Linked DNA regions of Homo sapiens. The protein of the gene in region 1 purifies or fractionates together with the protein of each later gene. This does not show direct contact. Each region holds a gene or a part of one and is shown on either strand. Other genes may lie near its edges.

Evidence for each region. Proteins that work in one complex are often made in the same cells at the same time.
Region 2: the proteins of ZNF280A (region 1) and UPF3B purify together in Homo sapiens (affinity purification with mass spectrometry; one large-scale study listed by BioGRID and IntAct). This does not show direct contact.

Annotation. Positions count from the first base shown.
Region 1 is NC_000022.11:22,512,227-22,518,434, forward strand, and holds the end of ZNF280A (zinc finger protein 280A), read right to left. Parts: intron 5,650-6,208; exon of another isoform or gene 5,554-5,649; intron 3,476-5,553; 5' UTR 3,405-3,475; coding exon 1,776-3,404; 3' UTR 1,510-1,775; downstream 1-1,509. UniProt on the Homo sapiens protein: May function as a transcription factor.
Region 2 is NC_000023.11:119,845,329-119,850,369, forward strand, and holds part of UPF3B (regulator of nonsense transcripts 3B), read right to left. Parts: intron 1-5,041. UniProt on the Homo sapiens protein: Involved in nonsense-mediated decay (NMD) of mRNAs containing premature stop codons by associating with the nuclear exon junction complex (EJC) and serving as link between the EJC core and NMD machinery.

The sequences.
Region 1 (6,208 bases):
TTTTTTTCAGTGATCTTTCTGTTACTGATTTGTAAGTTGATTCCCGTGTACTCAGTGGGTAACTACAAAGAGCCCCACAGCTAACATCACAATTAAAGTAAACTATTCTACCTGAGTTTGAGACCAAGAAAAGCACACCCATGAAAGCCACTTCAATTCGCAAAGCATTTGGAATAGCCAAGGCAATTTTGAACACCAAAGTTGGAGAAATGAAACTACCACACGGAGGATTATGCAAAGCTACAATAATTAAGATACTGCAGCATTAGCACAAGGATAGAGAACAGGACAAATGAAATGAAATAGATTCCAGAAACACATATATACAATCATACCTGATTCACAGTTTCCACGGCAATACAGTAGGGAAGGAGTGGTCTTTTTAGTAAGTGGTGCTGATTGATTTTGGGTATGTATATGAAAAAATTAGTCTTCATGCCTTATCACACCATTAACAAAAAATCAGTTTGAGATGTCTCATCAAAACAGTAAAGCTTCTAGAACATAGAAGGAATATCTTTATGTCGTTTGTAGACAATTTCTTAAATAAGACTCATGAAAGATAAACCATAAAACCACGATTTAGATCCAAATATGGGACATTTCCAGTGCCCCAGCACCCTTCCCAGTCGACAGCCCAGTTTTTAAAAAGGTAGGAGGGGGCAAAACTTGAATAGACATTTAATAAAAAGAAATACTCACGTGGCCGATAACTATATAATCTCAAGGTCCATTAATCATCAGGGAAGTGCAAATTAAAGCCACAATAAGGTACCACTACAATTTCAAGAGAAGGGCACTTACTAAAAGGACTGACAGTACCAAGTGCTGGATCAGTAGCAATGGAATTCGCAGTATCGGTGGTGGGAATGTAAATCGTTTCAATCACTCTGGAAATGTATTTGGCAGTATCTACACTAGACAGCTAAATATATGCAGTTCCAGCACTTCTCATAGCTATATATACCCACGAGAAATGATTACATGCTTACCAAAAGACACGCACAAGCTCATAGCAGCTTTATTCAAAATTGCCAAAGAATCAGCCTCAAAGTCCATCAACAGTGAAATAAATTTATACAAAACTGCCACAGTCACTCAACAAAATTCTACCCAGCAATGAAAAAGAATGTGCTACTGCTACACACAGCAAAAATGCATCTCACTTATTTTATTTCATTTTACTTTATTTTGAGACAGTCATGCTCTGTCACCCAGGCTGGAGGGCAGTGGCGCGATCTCAGCTCAGTGCAAACTCCCCCCTCCCAGGTTCAAGCGATTCTCCTGCCTCAGCCTCCCGAGTAGCTGGGACTACAGGCGCCCACCACCACGCTTGGCTAATTTTTCTATTTTATGCAGAGAAGGGGTTTCACTATGTTGGCCAGCCTGGTCTCAAACTTCTGACCCCAAGTGATCCACCCACCTCAGTCTCCCAAAGTGCTGGGATTACAGGCATGAGCCATCACACCCAGCCATCTCACTTATTTTAAAAAGCCAAAGACAAGAATCTTTGTGTGATTCCATTTATTTAAAGTTCATGAACAAGAAAAACCTCTGAGGTCAGAATAAGGGATGCCCTGTTGGGAGCATTTGACTGGGAAAGGGCTCAAAGACTTTGGAGCTACTTCTTGACAATAGGGAGCTGATGAGATGTCACTGTAAAAAACAACCTGACAGTTGATGACATTGCTTGCTAGCATCTACAGCCACAATGCACATATGGCCTAGCCTCACTTCTGCCTTTCGGAACTCCTGGAAGTCAGTCGAACATATTTTCAGCTAGAATCCTTGCTGCAAGGGAGTCTGGAATCTCTAGTGTTCATAGCCGTCTTCTTTTTAGTTTTTACAGGAGAAGACTGAGGGTCAGTGTTGCTAACAATAACGGAAGCCATACCACTTGATCCTGGCTGAACTGAAGTTTGAATAATAACTTTTGTTTCACTAGGCAACCCTTGCAGTTGCTCCGGCTTTTTAAATGTTTGATGGTCCTTGGTTTTGTGCTCTATTTCCTCCTTCAACGTCAAAAACTGTAGCCGGCACTTGGAACACTGAAGGACCCTCCTTCTGCTGTGCCTCCAACAATGATTCATGTATGGTATTGCAGTTTTGAAAAGTTTGAGACAAAACAGACAAAGCAAATTCTTTGTGTTTTCATGGCACGTTCTAAAATGTGTTTCCACATCAGCAAAGACCGACGATCTGTAATGGCAAACCTGGCACACATAAGGCATTTCGCCAGGCTTATGATGGTCCTTCATGTGTTGTAAGAGGACCTGATCTGTTTCAAATGACAATTCACAGATTTTACAGACAGCAGAGGGCCCCATGGCGATGTGTACACTATCAATGTGACACTGTAGCTGGAAGGGAGTGGGAAACTGCCGGTGGCAGTGCTGGCAGGTGGTGTGGTCTTCCCAGCTGTCGTTCCTCTGCTTCTCAAATTCCAAATGATGCTTCATGTGATTCATAAACTTAATATTTTTTAGAACTTTCACGCAGCTGAGGCATTTAAAGGTGGTGTGAGTCTTCTGTTCCGGCTGCCCATCTCCTTTATGCTGTCCATAGTAAAAGTCGCTAAGTAACACGATGGGATTTTCTTTCTTGGGATCAAAGGTCTTGTTTTGACTTGCTAGACTTGAAATGTCTGTCATTGCCAGGGCAGACTCACTTGCTCTCTCTGGATCTGTAAGATTGAAATGTGCCTTTCCATTAGCATCAGGCCAAGGAAATGTTACTCCATTCTGAACATGGTTTGATGAGTTGCAGATCCCCTGTGAGGGTGTATTTGTGCTTATTGTAGAAGACATATCTGAAGGGACCACAGCTAAAGAAGGTACCCCTGGGATTCCATCCCTGAGTTTAACCCTTTTGGAATCTCTGCTGTTTATATCTGAAGTGGAAAGTCGCTTTGAATCAGGAGAACTCTCATTTCTGCCTCCTCCAGAGACCATAGCTCCAACTAGACACTGAGTCCCTGGGGGGAGCGAGTCTGAGGAACTGGGAGAAACAACTTGTGGTGAGCTCATTTTATAACCAGGTTCAGATGAAGACTTCATAGTGACAGGACTATCTGTCGATCGCCCCTCAGACAGAGAAACCGGCATGATGGCTTTTGCCATAGAGGTCACATGATTTGCAGGCTGCGACACGTGAGCAGGATATTGACGGAAGTGGCCTTTCTTTCTTCTTGAATTTGAGCCTGGGGTGACTCTGTTCAAAATGTTTGAAACGACTGGTTTTGAATTTGAAATCATCCCGACAAAGAGAACTTCAGCATCTCTATGTACATGCTCCACCCCAACATAGATCAGATCTGGATCTTCATCATCCTCCTCCCTTTGTTTGGATTCTCTCAAATTCTTCTTTGGTGATTCCACTTTCTTACACAAAAAGATATCTCCCATTTTCAATTTACTTTTTGCTTGAAGCCACTGGTCTCTTCAACTTCCAGAGCTGTCTTTTTACAAATTGCCACCTAAGTGCAACCATGTGACAATAGTCAATATTTATTTCGAAAGACAAAATCATTACTTTATTGTATCCTCCCTTAAAACACTGAGATAACCATCAACATCTCTATTTTACACGTCAGAAATGAGGCTTGAAACATTTTAAATGGCATAATAATTTCAAATTTACCTGTCTCTCCTCCCCTGGTCTTCTGCAGTTGTGAGGCAAAGGAAGCAAGATTTCAGGAGGTGCAGATGGAACATCTCAGAGTGCTTGCCTCTAAATTTTGCACTCTAGATGCCTCACTCACCTCCTCCTCATCCCACAGGTACTCTCTCAGATGTCTAAGGTTTCTAACCAACTTGAACAAAACTTCTCTCAAAAACATTCTGCTCCTAGCCTGGGCAACATAGCAAGACCCCATCTCTACAAAAAAATTTAAAAATTAAAAAAAATTAGCTTGGCATGGTGGTACACACCTGTGGTCCCAGCTACTTGGGAGGCTGAGCCAAGAGGAACACTTGAGCCCAGGACTTCAAAGCTATGTTCATGCCACTGCACTCCAGCCTGGGCAACCAAATGAGACCCCATCACACAAACACACACACACACAAATCACAGCACACACACACACACACACCCTTTGCTGTTCCTGTAATGTTCCTTTTCTCAGTAAACTCAGTTGCTCAGTCTACAAACTTCAGAGTCATCCTTTGCCAGACTTTCTCTCATACACTACAGCCAATCAATTAGCAAAGCTAGTCTGCTCTATCTTTTAAAGATATCCAGAATCTGACTACTCTCTTCCACATCTACTGCCACCTCCCTGATGGAAGGTACCATGTTCTCTCCCTGGATCACTGCAGAAGTTGCCAGTCTTAAAAGTTTTGTCAGATCTCCCCATGGTGGCCCCAATGCCCCTGTTAAAATATACAGGGGAGCAAGTATATTTCGCTCTTAAGTCTTCAATGACTTTCCATTTCATTCATAGGAAATACCAGCAAACTTTAAATTTCCCCATGGAACCTTAGGTCATCATCGCCCTTGCTAACTCCTCTGTTGCTCTGATGCAGCCATCCTGAGCTCCGTGAATCTGGAACACAGCAGGCCTTTTTCTTTTTCAGAACTTTTGTTGTTCCCGGACGTTGCGTGCCTCTTTCCCCAGATTAACCCCATCTGGGCTCCTGGTCTGCCTCAGTCCCATGGTTCCTCTTCAGCAAGGCTTACCTGACCACAATATCAAAAATCACAACCTCCTTAACTCATATGTTCAAACCCTCAATGTTATTTTTCAACTTAGCATTTATCACTGCCTACCACACAATATGTAAAATATATCTTGCAAGCCCAGGAGTTTGAGATTACAGTGAGATATATCATGTCACTGCATCCAGCCTGGGTGACAGAGGAAAGGAAGACTCTGTGTCTTAAAACAACAACAAAAAATGGGACAGGTGCAGTGGCTCGTACCTGTAATCCCAACACTTTGTAAGGCCAAGGCGGAAGGATTGCTTGAGGTCAGGAGCTCGAGACCAGCCTGGGCAACATAGCAAGACCCATCTCTACAAAAAATTTAAAAATATAACTTGTTTCTTTTCTGTGTTTACCCACTAAACTGTATGCCACACGAGGGCAGGGAGTTGTGTTTCATTTACTCCTCAGCTTATAGAGCAATGTCTGTCATACTGTGCATGCTAAATCTTTGTTAAATAAATAGTAGCTGTTATTAATATGATCATTTAGGTGTACCAGAGGCTCTAATCCATTATTCCAGATTCTCTAAGCATTTAATGAAATCCAAATCCAAATGATTTAATACTGTTGTACAAGGGAGAAGGTAAACCTGTGTGTATGTGTGTGTAAATTGAAACAAAAGTTTTGTCAAATACTCTAATACCTTCACCTTACCACAAGGGATAGGCTCTGATACCTTCTATGCCATATTTTATTGATTCTAAGGTATAGGCTTAGATTTCCATTTTAACATCTCTAAATCAGATTGCATCTCATCATAGCATCTCATCAATATAAAATACATTTCATAATTTGTTTTTGCAGTATATATTTTTATTTCATAGTGGAATCAAAAATGACATATCTCAGATCCTTTTGTGAGGATAAGCGTGATGCTTGGGTTTTCACTCATGTGAGATGTGCTTCCCTCAAACCTTGTTATATCAGCATGTTTAACATCTGATGTAAAAAAAAAAAAAAAGGAGAGTAATGTATCTTTTATAATTGATGGCATCTTTTTTTTTTTTTTTTTGAGATGGAGTCTCGCTCTGTCGCCCAGGCTGGAGTGCAGTGGTGCGATCTCGGCTCACTGCAGGCTCCGCCCCGCGGGGTTCACGCCATTCTCCTGCCTCAGTCTCCCGCGTAGCTGGGACTACAGGCGCCCGCCACCTCGCCCGGCTAATTTTTTGTATTTTTAGTAGAGACGGGGTTTCACCGTGTTAGCCAGGATGGTCTCGATCTCCTGACCTCGTGATCCGCCCGCCTCGGCCTCCCAAAGTGCTGGGATTACAGGCATGAGCCACTGTGCCCGGCCAATTGATGGCATCTTATAGTCAGTGAAAAATCCTATTTCTTTTTGTAAGCTGACAGCACACTAAACTTGTTTTGTAGTTCTCTAATGGATATCAGCTACATTTTGGCAAACAATGGTTTAAGACAGAAATTGGAAAATTGGCCCTTCCCCTGTTTTTGTACAGTCAGGAAGCCAAGAATGTTTCTTACATTTTTAAGGTATTGTTTTCTT
Region 2 (5,041 bases), on another chromosome or scaffold:
ACAAAGAAAATGTCAAAAGTGGATATAAGGGAATCAACCCATTGCTTTCTATGACTCTTTTGATGGCAGTCATCTGAAGAGGGTCTCCCAAAGGCATAAAGCACACTGGCACAACCATAATCAACATACTACAAAAGGAGCCACAAATTCACACTGATAACATAGTGAAACAACACGGCATGAAAGTAAAATATTCATATAAATTCAACTTATAAAATGTGATATTTTAATGTGAAAAAGACCCTACAAACTATTTTTCATTTTAAAATGTTAGAAATCTCCAAAATAGGCAAATCTATAGAGACAGAACGTAGAGTAGTAGCTGCCTGGAGTTTGGGGTAGAAGTGGTGAGAAGAATGAGGAGTGACAACTAATGGGTGGGGTTTCTCTTAGGGGTGATGAACATGTTCTAAATTTAGATTGTGGTGATAGGCTCATAAGCCTATGAATATACTAAAATTCACTGAACTGTATACTTTAAAAGGGTGACTATTTCAGGCATGTGAATTATATCTCAATAAAGCTGTTATTTTTTAAAAGTGTAACTATTTGAGGTGATGTGTTATGTGAGGTGATGAATGTGTTAACTTGATTGTATATATTTCATAATGTATATATGTATACATTATGTATACATTTCATAATGTATATATGTATACAATATGTATACATTTCATAATGTATACATTTCATAATGTATACATATATAAAATTATCACGTTGGGCTGGGCACCGTGGCTTATGCCTATAATCCCAGCATTTTGGGAGGCCGAGATGAGAGGATCACCTGAGGTCAGAAGTTTGAGACCTGCCTGGCCAACATGGTGAAACACTGTCTCTACTAAAAATACAAAAATTAGCTGGGCGTGGTGGCACGTGCCTGCAATCCCAGCTACTCTGGAGGCTGAGGCATGAGAATCACTTGAACCCAGGAGGCAGAGATTGCAGTGAGCCGAGATCATGCCACTGCACTCCAGCCTGGGCGACAGAGTAAGACTCCGTCTCAAAAAAATAAATACATAAAAATAAAAATAAATAAAAATACAAAAATTAGCCAGGCGTGATAGTGCACGCCTGTAATCCCAGCTACTTGGGAGACTGAGGCAGGAGAATCACTTGAACCTGGGAGGCGGAGGTTGCAGTAAGCTGAGATTGTGCCACTGCACTCGAGCCTGGTAAAAAAAAAAAAAAAAAAAGAAAAAGAAAAAAGAAAAAACAATTATTACATAGTAAAATTTAAATATATATTATTTTATTTGTCAATTATAGCTCAATAAAGCTGGGGAAAAATCTGTTAACACTTAAAAAAAAATACACCAGGACACCAAAAGCACAGGCAACAAAAGTAAAAATACAGAGGGTAGATCTCATGTTAAGTGTTCTTACCACAATAAAACAAAAATATAAAGTATATCTCTTATTTAAAAAAAGTAAAAAATAGATAAATTGGACTACGTCAAAATTAGAAACTTCTATGCATCAAAAGACACAATCAACAGAGTGAAAAGGCAACCCATGGAATGGGAGAAATATTTGCAAATTATATTATCTGATAAGGGGTAATATCGAGAATATATAAAGAACTCCTATAACTCAACAACAAAAAACCAAATAACCCAATTTAAAAAATGGTCAAAAGACTTGAATAGACATTTCTTCAAAGATAATATACAAATGGCTAACAAGCATATGGAAATATGTTCCACATTACTAGTCATTAGGGAAATGCAAATCAAAACCACAATGAGGTATCATCTCACGCCTATTAGGAGGACTACTATCAAAAAGCAGAAAATAACAAGTGTTGGCAAAGATGTGGAGAAACTGGAACACTCATGTATTGGTGGGAATGTAAAATGATGCAGCTGCATGGAAAACAGTATGGCAGTTCCATAAAACATTAAAAATAGAATTATTGGGCCAGCCTGACTAACATGGTAAAACCCCATCTCTACTAAAAATACAAAAATTAGCTGGGTGTGGTGGTGGGCACCTGTAATCCCAGCTACTCAGGAGGCTGAGGCAGGAGAATTGCTTGAACCCAGGAGGTGGAGGTTGCAATGAGGGAAGATCGCGCCATTGTACTTACTCCAGCCTGGGCAATGAGGGCGAAATTCCATCTCAAAAAAACAAAACAAAACAAAAAAGAACTACCGGCGGGGCACAGTGGCTCACACCTGTAACCTCAGCACTTTGAGAGGCCGAGGTGGGCGCATCACTTGAGGTCAGGAGTTTGAGACCAGCCTGGCCAACATGGTGAAACTCCGTCTCTACCACAAACATAAAAAATTAGCAGGGTGTGGTGGCAGGTGTCTGTAATCCCAGATACTTGGGAGGCTGAGGCAGGAGAATTGCTTGCACCTGGGAGGTGGAGGTTGCAGTGAGCCAAGATCATGCCACTGCACTCCAGCCTGTGTGACAGAGACTCTGTCTCAAAATAAATAAATAATAAAATAAAAATAGAATTACCAAATGACTCCAGAAATTCCATTTCTCGGTATATATCCAAAAGCAGTGAGAACAAGGACTCGAATATGTGCACATCTGTGTTCATAACAATATTGTTCACAATAGCCAAGAGTGGAAGCAACTCGAATACCCCTTGACAGATGAATGGATACACAAAATGTGGTATATACATATACTGGAATATTAGTCTTAAAAATGAGGCTGGGGGCAGTGGCTCATGCCTGTAATTCCTAGCATTTTGGGAGGCTGAGGCAGGCATGTCACTTCAGGTCAGGAGTTTGAAACTAGCCTGGCCAACACAGTGAAACCCCATCTTTACCAAAAGTACAAAAAAATTAGCCAGCTGTGGTGGTGGGTACCTGTAATCCCAGCTACTTGGGAGGCTGAGGCTGGAGAATTGCTTGAACCCAGGAAGCGGAGGTTGCAGTGAGCTGAGATCGCGCCACTGCATTCCAGCCTGGGCAACAAAGTGAGACTCCATCTCAAAAAAAAAAAAAAAAAAAAAAAAGATGAAAATTCTGACACATGCTACGACATGGATACACCTTGAAGATATTATGCTAAATGAAATAAGCCAGACAGACACTGTATGTTTCCACCTATATGTGGTACCTACAGTAGTGAAACTCATACAGACACAAGGTATAATGGTGGTTGCCAGGGGCTGGAGGAAGGGAAATAAGGAGTTGTTTAATGGGTAAAGAGTTTCAGTTTTTCAAGATGAAAAAGTTCCCAAGATTGTTGCACAACAGTGTGAATATACCTTAATGCTACTGAACTGTACACTTAAAATGGTTAAGATGGTAAATTTTATGTTACGTGTATTTTTACAATTTTTAAAAATGCAAAAGGAATGAGGTAATGATATATGTTATATGTTACAACATGGATGGACCTTGAAAACATTGTGCTAGGTAAAAGAAGCCAGTCAGAAAAGACCACATATTGTATGATTACATTTATATGAAATGGAGGGAAATCATAGATACATAAAGTAGATTAGTGGTTGCCAGGGGCTGGAGGGAGAGAATGGGAGGTAACTACTAATAGATATGGGTTTCTTTTTGGAGGGATGAAAACATTCTGGAATTAGTACTGATGGTTGTACTACCTTGTGAATATACCAGAAACCACTGAATTGTACGCTTTAAGAGGATGAATTTTATTATAGGTGAGTTATATTTCAATACAAAAACCCCAAGTGACTAATGGGAAAAAAATTCACAAGCACCCTGTCACAGAATGTCAAAAACAAGGTATCCTATCCTTAAATCATTGGCATGTAGACATAAGCAGAAAAATAAAAATAAACAGAATTGACCAGAAGGCACTGCAAAGCAGTCATGGAGGAAAAATTATGTTGGGAATCCCAGTGAGTAGAGAATCAGATTAGCTTCAAAACTGTGATATATTAGGCCAGGCATGGTGGCTCACGCCTGTAATCCCAGCACTTTGGGAGGCTGAGGCGGGTGGATTGCTTGAGGCCAGGAGTTTGAGACCAGCCTGGCCAACATGGTGAAACCCCATCTCCTAAAATTACAAAAATTAGCTGGGCGTGGCGGCACACACCTGTAATCCCAGCTAAGTCGGCAGGCTGAGGAACGAGAATTGCTTGAACCCAGGAGGCGGAGGTTGTAATGAGCCAAGATTGTGCCACTGTACTCCAGCCTGGGCGACAGAGTTAAGACTCTGTCTCAAAAAAAAAAAGAGAGAGAGAGAGAAGAAAAAGAAAAAAAACAAAAATAAAAACCAAAAAACAAAACTGTGATATATTTGAGAAGGAATAGATAAACCAGACTGAAACAGAGGGAAATTGTGGAAGACAGGCTGAAGAAACAGAAGTGAGGCCAGAATATGGAGGACCCTGACTACCAGGCTAAGGAGTTTGGACTTTTTCCCCCAACTGTTAATTTAAATCATTATTTTCAAAAAGATTAATTTCATGGCAATATAATAGACTGAATTATACAAGAATGAAAAAAATGGAAAATCCTGTAAGTTTAGAGACAGTGGTTGTCTAGGCATTAAGTGATGAGGACATAAAGTGTGACTGTTTAAGGCTAGGTGAACAAGATATTAAAAAAAAACAATAAAATCCAGCCTGGGCAACATAAGCAGACCTTGTCTCTAAGATTTAAAAACAAAACAAAACAAACAAACAAACAAAAAACACAATGAGGAAAGGATAGTCTCTTTAATAAGTGGTGTTGAGCTGGGTATGGTGGCTCGCACCTGTAATCCCAGCACTTTGGGAGGCTGAGGTGGGGGGGGGGAAATCACTTGAGCCCAGGAGTTCAAGACCAGCCTGGGCAACGTAGTGAGACCCCATCTCTATAAAAAATTTAAAGAAAATTAGCCAGGCATGGTGACATACATCTGTAGTCCCAGCTACTCAGGAGGCTGAGGTGGGAGGATTGCTTGAGTCCAGGAATTCCAGGCTGCAGTGAGCTCTGATTGCGCCACAGCACTCCAGCCTGGGTGGAGACCCTATCTCAAAAGATAAACAATAAATTGACAAGATTCATAACTTACATGTAAGAGATTTTTAAAAAAGGAAAAAATTAAACACAAC